Regions from separate parts of the Homo sapiens genome. Here regions 2 and 3 are each linked to region 1. Evidence: fine-mapped expression QTL. A gene starts in region 1. Each other region holds a variant in brackets. All regions are shown on one strand. Distances are between the middles of the regions.

The links. PIP is the estimated chance that this variant, and not a neighbour inherited with it, causes the effect.
Region 2: its variant is fine-mapped to the expression of RNF217-AS1 in skeletal muscle (FUSION, PIP 0.95).
Region 3: its variant is fine-mapped to the expression of RNF217-AS1 in esophagus muscle (GTEx, PIP above 0.99).

What each region holds. Positions count from the first base shown.
Region 1 is chr6:124,958,182-124,966,467 of GRCh38, forward strand. It overlaps RNF217-AS1 (RNF217 antisense RNA 1), which reads right to left and starts at 4,846. Exons shown (of 7, transcript NR_026876.1): 1 at 4,642-4,846. RNF217 (ring finger protein 217) reads left to right here and starts at 4,256. Exons shown (of 6, transcript NM_001286398.3): 1 at 4,256-5,245. The coding sequence starts at 4,364.
Region 2 is chr6:124,990,271-124,998,270 of GRCh38, forward strand. All of the region lies in intron 1 of RNF217 (ring finger protein 217), which reads left to right. Among named protein-coding and RNA genes, the nearest start is that of RNF217-AS1, 31 kb to the left of the region's middle. The variant G/T (reference allele first, on the strand shown) is at 4,492.
Region 3 is chr6:125,397,789-125,406,074 of GRCh38, forward strand. The region is part of intron 1 of LOC102723341 (a long non-coding RNA gene); the gene reads right to left. Among named protein-coding and RNA genes, the nearest start is that of HDDC2, 100 kb to the left of the region's middle. The variant A/G (reference allele first, on the strand shown) is at 3,690.

The sequences.
Region 1 (8,286 bases):
CATATACAGAATAATAATACTAGATCCCTATGACTCACCATATACAAAAATCAACTCAAAAAGGATTAAATACAAATGTAAATCCTGAAATTATAAAACTACTACAAGAAGCCATAAGGGAAATGCTGTAGGAGATTGGTCTAGGCAATAATTTTATGACTAAGACTGCAAAAACAAAGACAACAAAGGGAAAAATAGACAAATGGGATTAGAGCAAACTAAAACACTTATGCACAGCAAAGGAAACAATCAAGAGAGCAAAGACACAAACTGCAGAATGGGAGGAAATATTTGCAAACTATTCATCCCACAAGGGACTAATACCCAGAATATACAAGGAACTCAAAAAACTCAACAGTATAATATATATAATAATTGCACTAAAAATTGGGCAAAGGACATTAACAGACATTTCTTGTCTGTATAAAAGAAAGTCTGTATAAAAACAGACAGACTCATAGACCAATGAAACAAAATAGAGAATCCAGAAATATTATTAAGTCCACATATTTATGGCCAACTAATTTCCAACAAAGGTGCCAAGAATAAACATTGGGGAAAAGACATTCTCTTCAATAAATGATGCCGAGAAAACTGGAAATCCCTATGCATAAGAATGAAACTAGACACCTATCACTCACACAGTTGATCACAAAAATCAACTCAAAAGACTTTCTTTTATATAGACTTTCTTTCTCAAAAGAAGTCATACAAATGGCTAACAAGTTTATTTAAAAAATGCCCAGCATCATCAATCACCAGAGAAATGCAGATCAAAACCACAATGAGACATCATCTTACCACAGTTAGAATGACTATTATCAAAAAGACAAAAAATAACAAAAGGTGGCCAGGATGCATAGAAGAGGGAAATTTTATACACTCTTGATGGGAACATAAATATGTATAGTCATTATAGAAAATAGTCTGGAAGTTTCTCAAAAAACTAAAAATATAACTACCATATGATCCAGCAATCTCATTACTGGGTATTTATCCAGTAGCAGGAAAGGAAATCAGTAAATCAAAGTGACATCTGCACCCCTATATTTATTATAGCACTATTTACAAGAGGTTGATATGGAATCAACCTAAGTGTCTATCAACAGATGAATGGATAAAGAAAATATGGTATGTATATTCAATAAAATACTATTTAGCCATAAAAAATGAAATTTTGTCATTTACAGCAACATGGATGGCACTAGAGATCATTATGTTAAGTGAAATAAGGCAGGCACAGAAAGACAAATATCACATGTTCTTGATATATGGGAGTTTAAAAAGTTGATCTCATGGAAGTAGAAAGGAGAATGATAGTTCCCAGAGGCTGGAAACACAGGGGCAGATGAAGAGAAGTTGGTTATATGTATACAAACATATACTTAGATAGAAGGACTAAGTTCTAGTGTTCAATAGCACAGTAGGCTGACTATAGCTATATATTGTATATTTTAAAACAGCTAGAAGAGAATATTTGAAATGTTTCCAACACAAAGAAATGATAACTGTTCAAGGTGATGAATATCCTGTGTACCTTTATTTGATCATCACACATGGTATGCATATATCAAAATATCACATATATCCCACAAATATGTTCAAATATTATGCATTAATAAAAATGATTTAAAAAAATTGAAGGGAGCCAAAAAGAAGTCATGTTTTAATGCCAGGATAAGAAAGGCAATAATAGAAAAAACAGCATTCTAAAACTGACATAGTTTTCTGATATTGAAGTCTGGATTTTAGGGAAGGTACACAGTTCACTGCAGATTAGGACATTTTGAGGCTTTATGTTGGTAGGAGCAGGATATTAGTGATAGTACTTACGTTGTATCAACAGTTGTGTACAACCTGAGATGGAGCAGATGGTTTGAGTTTTGAGAATATTAAGCTTGTGGCAGATAAATGGAATTTTTGCTAAAATATTAAATATTGGTTAATAAAATATTTTCAACCAATCCTTCTTTAAATAATTAATCCCATCGAAACAATCATTACTGGTGCTTCATGCACTTCAGAGAAAATTCATTGTGGAACCACGATGTTAACTTTTCAATTTAATTCACTTCCATGCTGCTGGAGTCCCATGAGCACTAGATTGAATGCCAGGGGTGGTGGGTCAAGGATTCAGGCAAGTTTGGGCCAATTTGGAGGGTGGAAATAGGGAACCACATATTATTCTATTTTCACAAAGGCCCAATGAATTCTGTAGGGAAGAAGTCATGGCAAAATAAAGGGCTGCAGTTTTAAGCAGCAGAGATATGGGCGGCCATCATGAGTCCCAGCAGGGACTTCTAATGGGTTTGGTGTAGAGGACAGCCACTTCCAGTAAGCTGGAACCTAAGGGATAAGGAATAAAATGGTAAACACTGGAAGAACAAGTTCTCAGAATACGAGTGAAAAATGTGTGTGAGGAGGGGTTCCCAAAACTATAAGAGGACTTTGAGGGGTTTTATTCCAATAGACGCTGTGGGAATATACTTTTTGGCATCCATTATTGTTACTCTGGTCTTAGCCTGTTGTCACCTGGAAAATGCAGATTACTTTTATATCTCTGGAAAGAATAGTGGCTTGGTCATCAGATGGCACACTCAAAAGGCACACATAAGTAGGTTTCTTGTCTCTGTCTTTAAAACAATAAGCACTTAAAGTATCATTTGGAGAAAACAGCAGTTACCAGGAAATCACTTAGCTGAGATAAAAAAGAAAAGAATCCTCGAATAGCATTTAATCTTCAAAATAAGAATTTTCCATTCTTGGGTCAGACCGATAGATGACATGGCATTTAGACATCCAATTCATACCTTTGCTTGCAACTGAGCCTCAGACACACATATATGATGGAAATGTTCTTTGGCATTACACTGCTTTCTTAGTTTGCATCGCTAGTCACCTTTGTATCATTTGCATCTGATTTGGAAAATATTTTAGAACAACCCAATAACAACTTCGAGATTAAAAAATAAAATTCTACACACTTTACAGTTCCTTGCTATTACATGAATGTGTAAATTGAATTCCCTCTCAGGAGAAAAAAAACAAAACAAGGGCTGGCTTCCCAAAAATGTTTTCACTGGCTTTAGGGAACTAAAACACCAGTGTCTGGGTGAGTAATACTTCCTGTAAAATAAAGATAGATCAACACATAATTAAGTCCTGGCTCACATATAATTGTTGTTTTGGAAACAGTTTTGAGGATAAATATGGTTATGCTAATGAAACTGCCCATGATTTCCACTAATGATCCAGTTTATTAATTAGGTCAGGACATTTTTCCACCTTGTGCTATCCATTTTGGAATGCTGAAAAGGGTTAAAAAAAAAAACTTCTAAGAGAACACTGTAGGCGAAGAAAAAGAGAGAAATTTTAAATTAGTTATCAACTCTTCTAAGGATTCCAGTTGGAGGAGTAGATCGAAAGTGCTTTTTCGATTATTTATGGGTTTCGAAGATTCTTCCTACTCCACTAGGCAGAAAAACAGAGTTGTAATATACAGCATTTAGAATTCATAATCCTTAGCATTATTTCTCTGAACTCGACATCCTAAATAGCCAGCGTTTACTAATTCCAGAGCTGAGTGTAGTTTTGTAGGAAGTTCTACTGAATGCGGAGACCAAAGGGGAGCCTGCCTGCTCTGAGGGTTTTGTTGAGGCTGAGTGTGAACTCCGGGCGAGAAAGCGCATCTCAGCTCTTAGATCACACCCACTCAGGGTGTGCGTGTGTGTGTGCGCGGGTGCCTGCGCGCGTGTGTACGTGTGGGGAGGTGTGCGCCAAAGGGGTGGGGTGAGGGGCGGCGAGGAGGGCTGTAGGTGAAGCGCGGGGAGAGGGAGGTCGCCCGCTCCGGCCTCTCCCCCAGGGGCCCTGCGGCTGGCCAGCGCTCCGGCTGCACCTCCTGGTGCGCGCCGCGGCGGCGCCACAGGCCCCTCGACCCTTTGACCACCGCCCTCGGGCCGCGCGTCCGGCAGCCGGGACCGGTGATGGCGCGGGACTGACGGCCGTCTCCTCCCAGACCCCTCTGTCCCGCCTGGGGCTCGCTGGGGCTGCGGCGCCGCCCCGAGCTGCATGTGGGGCGGGCGCGCCCGAGCCCAGAGCGAGCGGCCCTCGGCGCCCCCGAGGCGGTGCCCCGCCGCGCCAGAGTACGAGGAGGAGCGGCGGGCCGGGCCAGGCTCCCCACGCGCCGCAGCCTCGGAGCACGGGCTCCCCGGAGGGGACTTGGGGCGTCCCAGCCCAGGAGGAAGGACCCGGAAGCAGAAGCGGAGCCGCGAGTCGAGCCGAGCCACTGCCCCCGCTGCCCGCGGGCGCCGGGTGGGGGTCCCGGCGGCTGGATGGGCAGCGGCGGCGCGGGCCGCGGGCGGCGATGGGCGAGGAGCAGAGCACGGTGAGCGGCGGCGGCGGGCCCCAGGAGTCGCAGACCCTGGCCAGTGGCACTGCGGGCCACCCTGAGCCCCCGAGGCCTCAGGGGGACAGCGCCCGGGCGCCCCCGCTGCGCGCCGCCTCCGCGGAGCCGAGCGGCGGTGGCTGCGGAAGCGACTGGGGCTGCGCGGACACCAGCGCCCCAGAGCCCGCGAGGAGCCTGGGGCCCCCGGGCTGGAGTAAGAGCCGAGCACCGGCGCAGCCTGCGGGACTGGCACTCACCGGGCCTCTCAATCCCCAGACCTTGCCACTGCAGTTGGAGCTGGAGGAGGAAGAGGAGGAAGCTGGGGATCGAAAAGAGGGAGGGGATGAACAGCAGGAGGCGCCCCCCGGCGAAGAGCTGGAGCCCAGGACCCGCGTGGGGGCCGCCGACGGACTGGTCCTGGACGTGCTGGGTCAGCGGCGCCCGTCCCTCGCCAAGAGACAAGTCTTCTGCTCCGTGTACTGCGTGGAGAGCGACCTGCCCGAGGCCCCCGCCTCGGAGCAGCTCTCGCCGCCCGCGTCGCCACCTGGGGCTCCGCCAGTGTTGAACCCTCCCAGCACCCGCTCTTCCTTCCCCAGCCCCCGACTGTCCCTCCCAACGGATTCCCTCTCCCCCGACGGCGGCAGCATCGAGCTGGAGTTCTACCTGGCGCCCGAGCCGTTCTCCATGCCCAGCCTGTTGGGAGCTCCACCCTACTCTGGCCTGGGCGGTGTAGGGGATCCCTATGTGCCCCTCATGGTGCTGATGTGCCGGGTGTGCCTGGAAGACAAGCCCATCAAGCCCCTGCCTTGCTGCAAGAAGGCCGTGTGCGAGGAGTGCCTCAAAGTCTACCTGAGCGCCCAGGTAACTTCACCCCCTTCTCTTCCCCATTTATCATTCCAAATCACTGGCGAGGAGGTCCTGCTCTCGATCTGATCTCCCTGCTCGCGCGAAGAGGTGACCGACACACTTACTGAGGATCTCTGTTAGTTTCTCACGTCTCAGTTGTTATTTAAGTGTATTATGACCTCACTGGTTTACTTAACTGGAATTTAACTTTGCTGTGAACTTCAGGCTATGGTTGGCATGTGTAGAAGGCACAAGATACAAGTTGTTGCCCTCCTCTTATTTCTTATACAGGATTGCAAGCACAAGCTTGCTCAAAGGAGGAGAGGAAGAGACTGCCTCATCGGCCTGGTATCCCAGAAACTAACAAGCAGTGGGCATAGAATAAATATTTATGGAGCTGGTGGAGAAAAGAATTGGAATAAATATTTCAGACCCATAATACATGAATTTGTAATTTTGCTTCATTTGTATATTCCAGGAAAGAGTGAATGTTTAAAAAAATGTATCCCTTGGCCTTTGCCTACTTTTCAGTTTCCTTTTTCCACAGTAAAGTTGAAGTACTTTTCTTTCACTGAGGTTTTAAGCCAGCACTCTTTAAGAGGGAAGCAAAACAGAAAGAGCAAAACAAAGCAAAGAGAGGCTAAGAGGTTTCTCAGAACAAGCACTGGTGAAACTTTCCTCCTCTGCTTTTATTTGAAAACTTGGTTTTTTTTCTTGGAAAGCTTGAGAGTGCACCAGACCAGCTTTCCTTCACTGACGGTGAATGCGTTCTTCCAGCAGTTTTCAATCTGTGATGTTTCTGCCAGTGTTTTGCACAATCCTGGATGCCCTTTGATCCTGTGTCCAATTGTCCTAGGCCTATTCATCTTTCAAAACCCTGTGTGTTCAGGTGCCAACTCTTCTGTGAAGCGTTGCCTCACCCTCCAAGTCACTGCTTATATACTTTCACAGTATCTTATATTATCTTACATGCACTGAAGTTGTTTCTTTCGTGTCTGCTTGTCTTGTTAGACTGTCTGGACAATGTCTTAGAGTCCCATATGTGGTAGCTTCATGTTGAGTCCCTTGCCCATCATAGTGTTTTTAATAACATTGGCTGGGACAAACTGAACAGGGCTCCGTACCATGTGATTCCTCTATGTTTTTTGGCTAACTCATGCTTGGGTCTAGACTGAAAGTGTGTACAGTCCCTAACTAAAAATGCAAACAAAGACTTAAAACGGTATGTTACATAAACAGTAAGTTGGCTAAAATAGTTGGGATTATTTAAAAGCCTCTGAGAGACTGTTGTTTCTTTCATGCTTTATCTACAGAGATTCTTAAAACAGGAGGAATGTCTGCTGCTGGTTGTGGTAGTTTCTGTATCATCATCCTCAAAACAGATTTCGCTGCCCTGCGATGGGATTCAGACATTTCCAAAATATAAGCCCGCCTCCAGGGAAGTCACTGTGAGAGCAGATGTGTACAAAAGAACAATACAAGGTAGCATGGGATGAGATGTCAATAGAGTAACAATTCCAGATAGCACTTCCTGTTAAATGCTGGATACACATTCCAGAAATTCAAGGGAGGTAGTCATTGTGGCTTGGGGTACTTTACCTAGCAGTTTGATTTCCTTATGGTGGGCCCTTTCCCCAAAGCAGTTTTCTTTTTCTTTATTAAACCTCATAAGTTAGTTTTAGGAAGTTTTAGTAATGGTAGTAGGGAGACAGAGGGACATAGTCAAGTGGTCATTGCAGTGTACAGTACAACCACTAAAAACTCCTCTGCAGTGACACAGTATCTGAAGCTTGTCTGCAGCATTTCTGATTGTATGTATGTGCCTGACCTTCTTCCAAAGTATTTGCTGGGACTTTCAATAAATAATAATACACATTATTGGCCGGGTGCGGTGGCTCACGCCTGTAATCCCAGCACTTTGGGAGGCTGAGGCAGGTGGATCACCTGAGATCGGGAGTTCAAGACCAGCCTGACCAACATGGTGAAACCCCGTCTCTACTAAAAATACAAAATTAGCTGGGCATGGTGGCGCATGCCTGTAATCCCAGCTACTTGGAAGGCTGAGGCAGAAGAATCACTTGAACCCAGGAGGCAGAGGTTGCAGTGAGCCAAGATCACATGATTGCACTCCAGCCTGGGCAACAGAGTGAGACTCCTCTCAAAAAAAAAGAAGAATATACATTATTTAAAATAATAAACAGCAACAAAAAGATGAGTCATAGATACCGGGCATGCTTTCACCTCAGGGCTTTTGTACTTGGTTTTCCCTGTTCCAGGAAGGTTCCCTCCATGGCCCTCTTATCTGCTCACTGCACTCCTTTTCAGGGCTATATTCAAATGTCATGCCCTGTGACTTTCACTGACCACCCTTTTAAAAATTGAGCCTCACCCCACGCTCTCTCTCTTTTTTCCTGCTTTTTATTTTCTCCATAGCACTAACATACTCTGTCTTACACTTAAGTAATTAAGTCAAGACAGAAGTTTTCACATTATTTGTACAGGTCTGTATCTTTAGCATCTACAGCGTTGTCTGGTATATAACAGATGGGCAACTAAAACCTACTGAATTTTTGAAAGGCCTGAGATTGCCCCAGAAACCAAGGCTAGGAAGTGGTGTTCTGCATTGGCACTAAATTCTATTCTGAGCTTCTTGATACTTAAGACAAAAGACAAAGGGCTTAAAGCGGACAAAAGTAACAGGTTTGCTAAGTTGGTTATTAAACTTAGAATTTAAGAGCTTAGATAAACTTTGAGCTTATACATAAAATAGCCTTTTTTAGTTGGTTAAAAATACAGGATTGTGGTTGTAATATTTTTGATCTGTGTCAATTCTATGGTCCCTCTACTCAAAGGTTGTGTTTCTCTGTCACTTAACCTCTCTATGCCTTAATTTCCTCATCAATGAAATGTAATTGCAGACAACCTGTAATAACCCACCAGTTCCAAAGCAAAACAAAGTCAAACTGCATGGTTATTTTGTTGCCCTACTGAACCACATCAAAAGGGCATAGTGAGTGCTTTCTTTCTCATCTTAAAAGGTCTCTTAGGTTTGACAG
Region 2 (8,000 bases), 32 kb after region 1:
CTATGTATGCTCACTACTCTTATTATCTTATCCAATTTCTGGTAAGTATTCTGTATCTGCCACTGGCTTTCTAATTTATATCCCGAGCTCAGACAGTTTCATGGAACTCCAGACTTGTTTATACATCTATGTAATATATCTGCAATTGATTTTATAAGAGATATCTCAAATTTGACATCTCAAAAACTCAGTTCTTTTATATTTCCCTGTAAACCTGTTTTATTTATAGTTTTCACCATTTCAGTTGATGGCCATTCCATTTTTCCAGTTGCTTAGACCAGAACTTTGGAATAAACTCTGACTCTTCTTTCTGTCATAGCACATTCTTATTTTTCATGTGTGATTGTTAGATCTACCTTTAAAATATAACCAGAATTGAGCCACTTCTCACCATTTCCCCTGCTACCACTGTGAACCATGCCACCATCATTCTCACCAGGAATCTAGCAGTAAAATCTTAACTATTCTCCCTGCCCTAGTACCTTTGTAGAGTGATCTCAAGAGTGAAGCCAAATTGGGCATGGTGGCTTACGTCCGTAATCCCAGCACTTTGAGAGGCTGAGGTGGGAGGATTACTTGAGGCCAGGAGTTCGAGACCAGCCTGAGCAACAAAGCAAGACCCCATCTCTACAAAAATAAAAATAAATAATTAGCTGGGCACAGTAGCTCATTCCTGTAGTCCTAGCTACCCGAGAGGGAGGTGGGAAGATCACATGACCCCAGGATTTTGAGGTTGCAGTGAGCCAAGATCACACCACTGCAAAGCCTGGGTGACACAGTGAAGCCAGAGAGATCATTTAAAAATGTAAGACCTGACATGTTGCTCTTTTACAATGTCTCCTCAGAGTAAAGGCCAAAGATCTTGCAGTGGCCTGCAATTCCCTGTGTGATCCATGACTCTGTTCCCCCACCCTGTTTCCTTTCTGACCTCTCTGACTCCATTTTCTATTCCTCCTGCCATTGCTCACTCAGAACCAGCTTCTCGGACTCTTTGCTCTTTCTCACATCAAACCCATGTCTGCATTAGGACCTTTCCAGTAGCTGTTCATCTTTCCCATAATATTTACATGGCTAGCTCTTAATCTGTTTCCAGTCTGTGCTCAAATATCAATTTCTCCTAGTGGCCTTCTTTTAGCAACCCATGTATACATGCTACCAACCCTCATCCCCCCCATACCAGCATTCTTCTTCCTTGTTTAATCTGCTGTATTTTTTCATGGCTTTATTATCTTCTAATAATGATGTGTTTTATTTATTATATTCATTTTTGTTGTCTTTTTCTCCCCGCAAGGCTGTAGGCCATGAGGATAAGAATTTTGTTTGGTTTTGTTGATTCATGAGGCCTGAGTGCTTGACATGTAGTAGGTGATCAACAGACATTTGTTTTAAATAGTATCTTGAAGACAATTTTGTAAATCATTTTTTCTATATCTAGAATTGTAAGATTTTAGAGCTGGAAGGGATTTTATGTTATAAATAGTTTCTAAACCTGTGCTAATAGCCACATGGTACTATTCAAATGTAAATTAAAATTAAGTAAAGATTTAGTTCCTCAGTCCTAGTAGCAACTTTTAAGGGCTCTTGTGTTCAGTGGCTGCTGTATTTGACCACTCAGGTATAGCACTTTTCTGTCATACCAGAAAGCTCTATTAGACAGCCCTGGGCCCATGGATTCCCCAAGGTCATACAGGTCATTAGTCCATGACTGATATTGAACCCAGGGGACTCAAATGATTTATGAAAATTACAGAGTATTCCTTCTCATATAAATGCCCTGGGGATCTTGTTAACATTGCAAATTCTGATTTACTAAGCCTGAGATGGGGCCTATACTTTTACAATTCAAACAAGCTACAAAGTAATGCCAGTAATGCTGACCTGCAGCATCACACTTTGAGTAGCAAGGCTGTAGAATGCTCTAAAATATTAAGGAATAACTCCTTTTAACATTTTAAGTAGGACATGTATTCATTTTTACCGCAAAGGTATGTTTTGTAATTAGAATAATGTTTCCTAATAAAACTAGGTGAAACCTTAAATACTGGTTTTGTACAAAGCTACATATATTAAAACATGTTTTCTATTCCCAAATGAAAACTTGATAAATAATAGTCAAGCAGGAGAAAATAAGAAACTAAGAGGCTATAGAACATTGATTTTAAGAATGTACTTGACATAGGCTGGTTTGTGGTTTATATTTCTAATGCTGTGTAGATGTAATGGCTGTTCTGCTAACATCTATAGCAAGATACTGGATTCGGTTAGCTTGTTCTAGTGTATTATATAATAAAAGTTTAGAATAGTGAGAAGAGGGGAGGTTTTTCTTGTTGAAATTGACTTGTTCCATTTTGTTTCAGAATGTGGATTTGATCTTGGAAAGTATGGTACTATCTTTTGAATGATAAAAGTACATTGAATTTTTCTGTTCCAAATTTTGTAAAGAATAATTCTTTAGCAGAACATTCTTTGTTGTAATGATTTTTTTTGTCAAATTCTAATTGTAAAGTAATTGGATTACTTTAATAAATTACTAGTTAGTAAATGTAATAAATTTACTTTAAATAAATTTAATAAATTTATCCTTAGTTGCTTATGCAGATGACCACTCATCTTTTACCTAAAACGATTTATGTCTTTGATGATGTTACATTTAGATATCAGAAAAAGACATTGCCATGAAGCTGTCTAAATTTTCCAATGTAATAGAATATTTGTTCATTTTATAGACTGAGAAACAACTGTCAGTGCTCTTGCCTATAGTAGTATTATTGGCAAATTTATAGAGCATAATCAAATAAAACATTTTGTAATAATTGAGTTCAAATAGTAAAATATACTTGATATATGAACTTTCTTTTGGTCTCTACTGCTGGCCAGTTATGCCTAAAGTTGACTTACTATCAGAAACGCATGAGGCATCTATTAAAAAATAGATTCCTGAGGTCTTGCCCCAAGAAATTCTGATTTAGTAATTCTGGGATGTGTCCCAGGAATCTGTATTTTTACAAGTATCTTGGGTTTTCTGACTAAGCGAACAATATAAATAGAGTGCCTAGAACAATAACTGGCAGATAGTAATTACAAGTAAATATTAGATCTTCTCCTCCCCTCCCGTCCTTTCCACTAAAATTATTATCATTAGCCCATCTGTTAACCAAACTTTGGTTAGGTTTTCCTTTCTTTGATGAAGAGGCTTAGGAAATATGAGAGAATAAGATCATTCCTCAGTTGCGCAAATATTCACTGAGGGCTTTCTAGTTGTGGCACGCACTATTCCAGATCTTGGCAGTGCAAAGGTGAACCTGACATGTTTTTAAGTCAGGGAATTGTAGCCTATTCGGGTAGATATATAAGTAAAATCACCTGTCTTACAGTGTAGTAGGTGCTACATTAGAGCTAGGTGCAGGTGCTGGGCGGCACATAGGAAGGCCGGGTAGGCCAGCTGTTTGTCAGGGAGAGTTTTGTAAGGAATAGTGAGGCCTCAGATGAGATCTAAGGGTAAGTAGGAGTTAGCCAGATAAAGAAGGGGCTGCGTAAAGAGTGTGTCAGGGCTAAGAGTGCCACAGCTGAAAGAGCATACTTCTTCAGTGAATTGCAGTGGCTCAGTAGAAGCAGGAGATCCTCTGGAGAGGTGAGTGGGAATTCGAGCCATTAATCTATGACAAGGAATTGAGGCCTTTATTCTGCAGGTAGTGGGCAGTGATTGAAAGTCATTGAAACAACATTTTGCATTTGAGAAAACAAATTACTCTGGCTGGAGTGTGGAGAAGGGACTGGAAAGAGGGAAGGGGTCATGATGGAAGGAAGAGGAAAAAGCAAGTTTAGAAGAAAATGGAATTTTAAAATATTAGCCTAGAGAAAAAAAAATATGTATATAAGGGATGTGTGTGTATCTTTTTGTTTTATAAATGTTTAAACATATTTTTAAAATATAGGCAGAATAGTCTAACCCCATGTGCCTGTCACACAACCACAACAATTAGTGACTTATGAACTATTTTGTTGCGTATCTATTCCCACTCACTTCCCCTTCCCTTCCTTATTTTGAAGCAAAATCCTGACGTGATTTCATCTGCAAGTCTTTCAGTATGTATCTCCCTAAAGTGAGGACTTATTCTTTTGAACGGAGACATAATTACACCTAAATAATAATCATTTCTTAATATCATTATATATCTAGTCAGTGTTCAAATTTCCAGTTGCCTCATGAATGGTAGACTTCACAAACTTGTAAGTGAAATAACTAAGACTGTCCAGACTTCTGACTTCAGATGTGTGAATCTGTTTTCTCCCATACACAGCTGCTTTGCTGCTCCCAAATTGGAGAAAAAAAAGTTAGTTACTAGCATGATGTTAGGTAGATACAAAAGTTTCTACAACCTGCTTTTTGTATATATCCTCAAACTACTACATCCTGAGCTGCCCAAGTGTTTTCTTTTGTGCTAGTAAGTGCTACTTTAGGCAGTTGTATGGCATTATATTTCCAACTAT[G/T]CTTTCATCTTTTTTAGGAGTAAGAATTATACTTGAAAAACTGTACACCTGTTACTTGAGCCTGAATTTTATAGCTCCGTGGCTGACTGTTGGCAGGCTCTGGGATTTGGAGCTTACCATCTAAAAGAGATAGTACTGAGAAAGTTGAGGTATACTACGAGAATTTTTTATGATCCAGGAATAGACAACTTTGTAAATTCAGGCTACTAATATTGTGTAAAAATGGGATGTTACGTATCCAAGTATTAACCTAAGGATAATTTATAGTTCTATTAAGAAAAATTAAAACAAGATTATTTCTCATTGTTGACTATATTTGTACCCTTGAGTAGGGAGATGTTTGTGGTTTGTCAGTTATTTATACCACCACCTTCTTCATCCATATTTTATTAAAAGTTAGTGTACTTTTATTGCCTCTAATCTCTTTTACAGATTTTATTTTGTGAAATATTATACATACAAAAGAATATAACACATGGTTATAGTTTTAAAAACAATAATAAAATGAAAGCTCACATAAAAAATAGAACAGTAACAATATTGAAGGCCATCCTGGTGCCATCCAAAACACACTGTGCACTCTGATTCAGAGCTAAACAATGTCCTGGATTTTATTGAATTATTTATTAATTTAGTTTCATTACAAATGTATGCATCCCTAAACACTGTTGCTTAGTTGTGCACATTTTTAATCACTTTTATAAAAATGAAAACATTCTTTGTATGTTTTTTATAGGACTTTTACTTTATTCAAAGTTAACATTTTGAGATTCTTTTATATGAGACAGCAATTTGTTCATTTTTCATTGTTGTTTTGGAGTTTGTTGTATGAATATAACCCGATTTACTTACACTTTGCCTATTGAAAAACATTTGGAGGGCGGGTGCTGTGGCTCATGCCTGTAATCCCAGCACTTTGGGAGGTCGAGGTGGGTGGATCACCTGAGGTCAGGAGTTCGAGACCAGCCTGACCAACATGGCAAAACCCCATCTCTACTAAAATTACAAAAATTAGCTGGGCGTGGTGATGGACTTCTGTAATCCCAGCTACTCGGGAAGCTGAGCTAGGAGAATCATGTGAACCCAGGAGGTGGAGGTTGCAGTGAGCCGAGATCGTGTCATTGCACTCCAGCCTGGGTGATGAGCAAGACTCTTGTCTCAAAAAAGAAAAAGAATCAAGAAAAGAAAAACATTTGGAATATTTCTGGGTTTTTTTTTTCTATTTCTCTTACAGACTATGTACATGTATAGGAATTTTTCCAGATTTTTTAAATCTGGGAAAGGTTTTGTTGCTTCACAAGGCCATGAATCTTTAACCTGGCTTGGTATTGCCAAATTGTTTTCCAAAGTGGTTGTGCCAGTTGATACTCGCTCCACAGCTGATGAAAGTTCCCATTGCTCCATAACCTCAACAGTACTTCATCGTATATTTAAGTGTTTTGCCAGTCTGCAGGGTATGAATAAACATCTCATGATTTTGTGTGTTCATTACCCTCATTTATAATTAGCTTGAGCTTTTTTTATTTTTGAAGATTTTTAATTTTGAAGATTTTTTTAATTTTTGAAGATAATTTATGTTTTCTCTGATGTGCTTTTTCTTATCTTTAGCCCATTTTTCTGTTTCTTGGGTTGTCTCTTACTGATTGATAGGAGTTCTATTTTTTATACCCTCAATACTAATCTTTTGTTAGTTAAATGTGTGTTGTGGATATCTTCTACCAATTCATGGTTTTCTTTTTCTATTTTTATGATGTCTTTTATGAAGAGTTTTAATTATCTTTAATCCATTGCAATCTGAATTCTGTCCCCACAGCTCTGTTGACATTGGCTCTTGAAGGCAAACTTCATAATGAGGGGAAGAGTCAAGTTTTGTGTAACCTGAAGCATATACAGTGTGAGCATACTCTTTAAGACTAAGTTATGAATATAAAGTTAGATGCAAAAGTAAATGATTACAATGAGACTATAAGTCACAACAATTACAAATTTTAAAAGCTACCAAATACTACAAATATTGCAGTTTTAAAATATAACATTCCTCTTAACTGCCTTGTATATCTTTATATTACTTATCTATTTTTTACTATATAAAGCCTGATTACCTTTGTATAATGAAAATTTTGTAATGTAATTTTGAAAGTTGGAGTATAAAAATGATCCGTATTTTCTTTAAATCATCTTAATATGGTTTAGTATTGACAGTGGAGATGCATAAAATATGTTCCTCTTCACACAGACTTGTTTGTAGCACTCCTGCAAGTTTAGGTTCTACAAACACGGACGTGCTGGTAGAGTCTATTTTTTCATCATTTCTGTCAAAAAAGAATTTATTTTCTGTTTTGGTCCGGTGTGTATTCATTTGTTAAACTGATGAGAAGAGAATTTCTGTTTTGACCAGGCATAGAAAAGAGAATCCTCTGTTTAAAATGTTCTGTGTGATGATTGAAAGGATTTTTCTATAGAAGAGTTCACGGCTCCATGTATTTGCATGTATGGCTGCTTCACTACTCGCATGTTCCCCACCCTGAGCTTTATAGAACATGTTGTATTACAATCCTGGTGCTTAAGTCATGACTCCAGGTAAGTCAGCACAAAAGGATGGAAGATATTCCTGGAAATCATTCCTACCCTAGGGCTCTGCCAATTACTTAACCATATGCGAAAGTGACTGTAAATCACATAGACAGGTTCACACAACTCGAGTTAATATATTCCCATCTCAAATACTTCTTAGGCAAATCCGAAAAATGTTCACTCATAGCTGTAGTAATGACAGCAGACACATTGATGAAGGGCAAGTCAGAGTGGAAAGTGACAGGGGTCTTAACCAATTACAGTTAAATCTCTCACTCCTGCAAAAACATCTGACGCATTGAGCACATTCATAGGTCCTTGGAAACAGCCTGTGGCGATGAGATACCTGGACACTAGTTTCAGGGTAAATCCTGCATCTTTAATCTGCTCGCTCTCTCTACAGCCCTGAACACTTTCCCTTGCTTGTTTTCTTTACTTTCTCACCTTTAGTTGTCTCTCCCTCAAAGGCTTTTCTAGACTCTACTAACTTAATGTATTTCTCCAATATCTGCCTTGCTTTTAATTTTTTCATCCTGTAGTATCCCTTTGACCTTACTGATCCCACCGCTTGAACTGTCCTTACCTGTTCTTATGTGACGGTGACTCCAAAATTTCCATGTTGAATCCTGAATGTCTGCCTGACTCCGGCATTCCTTTTCTGATTGTGAGCAAGGGGCATCTCCTAATTGACATGGCTCCTCAGATGCCTCAGATTATATATGTTCAGAGCAAACTTTTAATATTTCTTCCAGACCATTCACCACTTCATCCTTTCATGTTCCAGTCATTTCTATTCTCAGCTCTGGGCATTTTCATTCTCCCAGTCACGTAGCCTCAAATCTTCATCATCTCCGTTACCTTATTTTTTCACACTTTACTTCCCTCATTTTGCCCCTCTATTCTCCTATCCCATGGATTCACCTTGTATGTCATTT
Region 3 (8,286 bases), 440 kb after region 1:
CAAAGTTGAAATGAAGGAAAAAATGTTAAGGGCAGCCAGAGAGAAAGGTCGGGTTACCCACAAAGGGAAGCCCATCAGACTAACAGCGGATCTCTTGGCAGAAACTCTACAAGCCAGAAGAAAGTGGGGGCCAAAATTCAACAGTCTTAAAAGAAAGAATTTTCAACCCAGAATTTCATATCCAGCCAAGCTAAGCTTCATAAGTGAAGGAGAAATAAAATCCTTTACAGACAAGCAAATGCTGAGAGATTTTGTCACCACCAGGCCTGCCCTAAAAGAGCTCCTGAAGGAAGCACTAAACATGGAAAGGAACAACTGGTACCAGCCACTGCAAAAATATGCCCAATTGCAAAGACCATCAATGCTAGGAAGAAACTGCATCAACTAACGAGAAAAATAACCAGCTAGCATCATAATGACAGGGTCAAATTCACACATAACAATATTAACCTTAAATGTAAATGGGCTAAATGCTCCAATTAAAAGACACAGACTAGCAAATTGGATAAAGAGTCAAGACCCATCAGTGTGCTGCATTCAGGAGACCCATCTCATGTGCAGAGACACACATAGGTTCGAAATAAAGGGATGGAGGAAGATCTACCAAGCAAATGGAAAACAAAAAAAAAGCAGGGTTTGCAATCCTAGTCTCTGATAAAATAGACTTTAAACCAACAAAGATCAAAAGAGACAAAGAAGGCCATTACATAATGGAAAAGGGATCAATTCAACAAGAAGAACTAACTATCCTAAATATATATGCACCCAATACAGGAGCACCCAGATTCATAAAGCAAGTCCTTAGAGATCTACAAAGAGACTTGGACTCCCACACAATAATAATGGCAGACTTTAACACCCCACTGTCAACATTAGACAGATCAATGAGACAGAAAGTTAACAAGGATATCCAGGATTTGAACTCAGCTCTGCACCAAGCAGACCTAATAGACATCTACAGAACTCTCCACCCCAGATCAACAGAATATACATTCTTCTCAGCACCACATCGCACTTATTCCAAAATAGACCACATAGCTGGAAGTAAAGCACTCCTCAGCAAATGTAAAAGAACAGAAATTATAACAAACTCTCTCTCAGACCACAGTGCAATCAAACTAGAACTCAGGATTAAGAAACTCACTCAAAACTGCTCAACTACATGGAAACGGAACAACTGCTCCTGAATGATTACTGGGTACATAACGAAATGAAGGCAGAAATAAAGATATTCTTTGAAACCAATGAGAACAAAGACACAACATACCAGAATCTCTGGAACACATTCAAAGCAGTGTGTAGAGGGAAATTTATAGCACTAAATGCCCACAAGAGAAAGCAGGAAAGATCTAAAATTGACACCCTAACATCACAATTGAAAGAACTAGAGAAGCAAGAGCAAACACATTCAAAAGCTAGCAGAAGGCAAGAAATAACCAAGATCAGAGCAGAACTGAAGGAGATAGAGAAACAAAAAACCCTTCAAAAAATCAACGAATCCAGGAGCTGGTTGTTTGAAAAGATCAATAAAATTGATAGACTGCTAGCAAGACTAATAAAGAAGAAAAAAGAGAAGAATCAAATAGATGCAATAAAAACTGATACAGGGGATATCACCACTGATCCCACAGAAATACAAACTACCATTAGAGAATACTATAAACACCTCTACCCAAATCAACTAGAAAATCTAGAAGAAATGTATAAATTCCTGGACACATACACCCTCCCAAGACTAAGCCAGGAGGAAGTTGAATCCCTGAATAGACCAATAACAGGCTCTGAAATTGAGGCAATAATTAATAGCCTACCAACCAAAAAAAGTCCAGGACCAGAAGGATTCACAGCCGAATTCTACCAGAGGTACAAGGAGGAGCTGGTACCATTCCTTCTGAAACTATTCCAATCAATAGCAAAAGAGGGACTCCTCCCTAAGTCATTTTATGAGGCCAGCATCATCCTGATACCAAAGCCTGGCAGAGACACAACAAAAAAAAGAGAATTTTAGACCAATATCCCTGATGAACATCAATGCAAAAATCCTCAATTTTATTTTTGATAATCCAAGCAGCACATCAAAAAGCTTATCCACCATGATCAAGTGGGCTTCATCCCTGGGATGCAAGGCTGATTCAACATATGCAAATCAATAAACATAATCCAGCATATAAACAGAACCAGAGGCAAAAACCACATGATTATCTCAATAGATGCAGGAAAGGCCTTTGACAAAATCCAAAAGCCCTTCATGCTAAAAACTCTCAATAAATTAGGTATTGATGGGACGTATCTCAAAATAATAAGAGGTATTTATGACAAACCCACAGCCAACATCATACTGAATGGGCAAAAACTGGAAGCATTCCCTTTGAAAACTGGCACAAGACAGGGATGCCCTCTCTCACCACTCCTATCGCACATACTGTTGGAAGTTCTGGCCAGGGCAATCAGGCATGAGAAAGAAATAAAGGGTATTCAATTAGGAAAAAAGGAAGCCAAATTGTCCCTGTTTGCAGATGACATGATTGTATATTTAGAAAACCCCATTGTCTCAGCCCAAAATCTCCTTAAGCTGATAAGCAACTTCAGCAAAGTTTCAGGATACAAAATCAATGTGCAAAAATTACAAGCGTTCTTATACACCAATAACAGACAAACAGAGAGCCAAATCATGAGTGAACTCCCATTCACAATTGCTTCAAAGAGAATAAAATACCTAGGAATCCAACTTACAAGGGATGTGAAGGACCTCTTCAAGAAGAACTGCACACCACTGCTCAACGAAATAAAAGAGGACACAAACAAATGGAAGAACATTCCATGCTCATGGATAGGAAGAATCAATATAATGAAAATGGCCATACTGCCCAAGGTAATTTATAGATTTAATGCCATCCCCATTAAGCTACCAATGACTTTCTTCACAGAATTGGAAAAAGCTACTTTAAAGTTCATGTGGAACGAAAAAGGGCCCACATTGCCAAGATAATCTTAAGCCAAAAGAACAAAGCTGGAGGCATCACGCTACCTGACTTCAAACTATACTACAAGGCTACAATAACCAAAACAGCATGGTACTGGTACCAAAACAGAGCTATAGACCAATGGAACAGAACAGAGCCCTCAGAAATAATACCACATATGTCTACAACCACCTGATCTTTGACAAACCTGACAAAAACAAGAAATGGGGAAAGGATTCCCTATTTAATAAATGGTGCTGGGAAACTGGCTTGCCATATGTGGAAAGCTGAAACTGGATCCCTTTCTTACACCTTATACAAAAATTAATTCAAGATGGATTAAAGACTTAAATGTTAGACCTAAAACCATAAAAACCCTAGAAGAAAACCTAGGCAATACCATTCAGGACATAGGCATGGGCAAGGACTTCATGTCTAAAACACCAAAAGCAATGGCAACAAAAGCCAAAATTGACAAATGGGATCTAATTAAACTAAAGAGTTTCTGCACAGCAAAAGAAACTACCATCAGAGTGAACAGGCAACCTACAGAATGGGAGAAAATTTTTGCAATCTACTCATCTGACAAAGGGCTAATATCCAGAATCTACAATGAACTCAAACAAATTTACAAGAAAAAAACAAACAACCCCACAACAAGTGGGCGAAGGATATAAACAGACACTTCTCAAAAGAAGACATTTATGCAGCTAACAGACACATGAA[A/G]AAATGCTCGTCATCACTGGCCATCAGAGAAATGCAAATCAAAACTGCAATGAGATACCATCTCACACCAGTTAGAATGGCGATCATTAAAAAGTCAGGGAACAACAGGTGCTGGAGAGGATATAGAGAAATAGGAACACTTTTACACTGTTGGTGGGACTGTAAACTGGTTCAACCATTGTGGAAGACAGTGTGGCGATTCCTCAAGGATCTAGAACTAGAAATACCATTTGACCCAGCCATCCCGTTACTGGGTATATACCCAAAGGATTATAAACCATGCTGCTATAAAGACACAGGCACACGTATGTTTATTGCGGCACTATTCACAATAGCAAAGACTTGGAACCAACGCACATGTCCATCAGTGATAGACTGGTTAAGAATATGTGGCACACACACACCATGGAATACTATGCAGCCATAAAAAGGATGAGTTCATGTCCTTTGTAGGGACATGGATGAAACTGGAAACCATCATTCTCAGCAAACTATCACAGGGACAAAAAAAACCAAACACCACACGTTCTCACTCATAGGTGGGAATTGAGCAATGAGAACACTTGGACACAGGAAGGAGAACATCACACACTGGGGCCTGTTGTGGGGTGGGGGGAGGGGGGAGAGATAGCATTAGGAGATATACCGAATGTAAATGACGAGTTAATGGGTGCAGCACACCAACATGGCACATGTATACATATGAAACAAACCTGCACATTGTGCACGTGTACCCTAGAACTTAAAGTATAATAATAAAAAAGAAAGAAAAACATATTTCATGTTTCATTTTCCATGAAATATGGTATATTTCTCCATATCGTAAAACCTTCTTTTATAGCTCAGTAAATATTTGTTCTCTTAGCATAAACTCAGACATTTCTTGACAAAGTATTACTAGATCTTTTAACAATTAGATTATTAGATTTTTATTAGGCCTAATATTTTTATTATGCCTTGTAACTGCTTCTTACAAGCATATTTTATTAATTATTAGCTTATCTTGGATTTTGTCAAAAGAAAATCATATTATATACAAATTACATTATTAATTCAATGACAAGTAAGTATCTACTATGTGTCAGCCAAACTTAATAAGCACTGAGAATACAGTACTGAAGCAATCAAAAAATGAAAAACAACAAAAAGACCCAAAACAGATTATGGAGGTTATAGTTCCAGCAGGAGAGAAGAGCAATAAACCAAATTTTACAAAAATAATGTATAAACTAGGATAAATGGTGCTTAAAGCAAAGGAAGAACAATTGAGCAGAGAAGAGGCATATAAAATAACAAGAGTGGGTGTTGAAATTTTTGGAGTAGAGGGCCTCACTAAAAGAGTAACTTCTGACTAAGGAACTCAGAGCAAATCTGAAACAGAATAGTCATATATAAAATATTTTTAATGTAATGAAAGATCAGATTTTGGAGGTTCTTATGGATGGTATTTAGAGTTTTTACTTGGAGTGATTTGGGGAGATGTTGGATGATTTTCAGCATAAAAGTGGCATGAGATGCCATAGATTCTGTGGTTCTGACTGTGTTAAGACCAGATTTAAAAGGACAGAAGTAAGACCAGTTGGAAAGTAGAGTAGAAGTTGTAGTCACCCCTTCCTATAGCCTTGGTTCACCCTGAGACACCTGTATGTAGACAATCCCCACGTATATTAACTGCTTCCTTTTTCTCTGCCTGAAAAGCAGTGAGCACGAAAGTGCCAGGGACGTATGCCTAGAACTGACCCTTACCAAGTTCGGAAGAGAGTTGGTGCCTAAAGACTCCAATTTTCCTCAGTGAGACAATTCTGACGTGTTTTCTATATAGTCTATTAGAGGGTGCCCTGTAGAACTAGCCTTCAGTGTCAAACAGCATTAACTCACTCATCCATGCACGCTTCATCGGCTTTTCCTATTACACTCTCCCACTATCCTACCATGCTTCCTGGGATTACCCTCTTAGAGTCAGGTTTTGGAGGAACCCAACTAACACAGAGGTTGTTGTAATAATCTAGGCAAGACAGAATAAATAATACCTAGGACCAACACATAGTCTTAAAATGGTGATAATTGATTTAATGCTGGATACACTATAAGGAAGACCTGAAATAATTTGCCAATGTATTCAGTGTGAAATAAAAGAGAAAAAGAGGGATTGGGATGACTCCAAAAATTTTGTTCTGAGCAATTGGAAGGACATAGTGTCCATTAACTGAAACGGGAAAGAGTACAGTTCATCTGGAAGAGACTTAGTATATGGTGTGAGCTAGGAGTCATTTTTACAATATGAGCATATAGTTGATTCAATGCCATTTATGAAAAAGAACCTCCTTTATACACTGCAGTGATACTTTTGTCAAAAATCAAGTGACCATATACATGTGAATATTTGTCTGTATTTCATGTTCTGTTTCATTAACCTGTCTATTCTTACACAAATATCTGACCATCTCAATTTCTGTAAATTATAAGTCATAATATTTGGCAATGCAATTCTTGCAGCTCTGTTAATCTGGAAGATTACTTTTTGTTTCCTTTTTTTTTTTTTTCTTATTTTTGAGATGGAGTCTTGCCCTGTGGTCCAAGCTGGAGCACAGTGGTGCAATCTCAGCTCGCAGCAACCTCTGGCTCCCAGGTTCAAGCGATTCTCATGCCTCAGCCTCTCAAGTAGCTGGGATTACAAGCACGTGCCACCACACCCGGCTAATTTTTGTATGTTTTATGGAGAGGAGTTTTGCCATGTTGGCCAGGCTGGTCTTGAACTCCTGACCTCAAGTGATCTGCCTGCCATGGCCTCCCAGAGTGCTGGGATTACAGATGTGATCCACTGCACCTGGTTGAAGACTACTTTTTATAGCATTATTAGTCTTGCAACTTTATAACAAATCTTAACATCCATCATGTAATTCCTCCAACACTCTTCATCTTGAATAGATTTTCATATTCAATAGTGCAATTCCTTGAACTCTGTTCTTCAAGTCCCATTCAATTTCATTAAACTTCAGAAACATCTTATCTCTTTACGTACACACATAATGTTGATATTTTTAGAATGCTGACCAATTTGGGAGGAATGTAGATCAATTTAAATTAATAAATAATTGATTTGATAAATTTATATCAATTTGAGAAAGAATTAACATCTTTACTATATTGAGCTTCCTACTCAAGAGAATTTTTAATATGGGAAAATAACAGCATATTTCTATACTTATTACACTAGTAAACAGGGAAAAGTAATGATACAAGAAAAGAATTCTTGGAACAATATTTCAGAGTGAGAAAGGGTAGATAAGATCTAATATCTAAGTGGCAGGATCCACCTTAGCTAGGTACATGGCCAGTTCATCAATAATAATAGAAAAGAAGAAAGAGTAAATAGTCACATATGGAAGTAGTTCGGTAAAGTGGTGGTGATGGGATCTCATGAGCATTCTCTTTTGACTGCTTCAGTTCAGTGAAATAGCCTGAAAATGACATGGAAAGGAGGTATTAAAGATTTCAGCAAGAGCAGAACATGTAAATAATCATCTAGAAAAGTGGTAAAGTGAATGAAATTTGTAAATATATAAAAATTTTAGGGCAGCATTAAACTACCACTGGAGATTAGTGAGCAAAAATTTTAACTAAGAACAGTCATCACGGCTGTATGCTTTTCTCCAGCAGTTTTTAACTTCAGGACAGGAGATGGCAGAGAGTAAACCAACAAAGTTGTCTTCATTCCAAAATTATTACTTTTGTGATTATTTCCTCTCTCATTGCATAGGCTGCAAATCCAAGAACACACAAAAAATGACAATGGTTAGGGTAACTGTCCTTAAGTTGTTCTAGTTTTTAATGAGAATGCCCATAATAGGGCATCATTAAGTACAAAGATGGCTGCTGGTTTAAGACAGCTAGTTTGTTACCTCTTAAAAGTGTTTTTTTCTAAGAGTTGCCAGTGAAATGTGTCCTCTTTCCCTATGTCTTTTGAGATGAATGTCCATTTATTTTAATTATTTTTACTTTCTCTTGGTATTAAAATCTTCCATAGATTGAATATTTTTTACTTTCCTTTGGTTCTTCTCTAGCTCTATCATGTCTTTTGTCAGGTGTATCAATCAAGACATCATAATCCAGTATGAACTCACCAGGTTTTGTGTAAGGAAAGGGATAACATATATGTGGGTGGTGGCAGTGTGTTTCTGTATCTGATTCATACCAGACAATGTTGCTCAGCTTTTTTTGGTCATGGAAGGATGTTGAGAACAGTCTGCAATAATTATGTCAGTTGCTAGCATATAGTTGCTTTGGTAGCTTAGAGACAATAATCATAATTAACTTAAAAATGTTTTTTCTCTAAAATATATTATCTTACAATGGCTCACACTGATTATTTTTTGCTGTATTTCTATAAATTGCATACTTTTATTAAATGTTTCTCATGATTTTTATCCTCCAATGTGGGCTTTCATTTCCAAGAATAACTTAATTTACCAACTTGGTGCGCTACAACAATTAATAAAGATCAGAGAAGGTCTGAATACTGATTCCTAATGAATATACATTTTGCACATTTTGTCCAAAAATGAAACTGTTTATACCGATACCTTTCTTCTGTCTA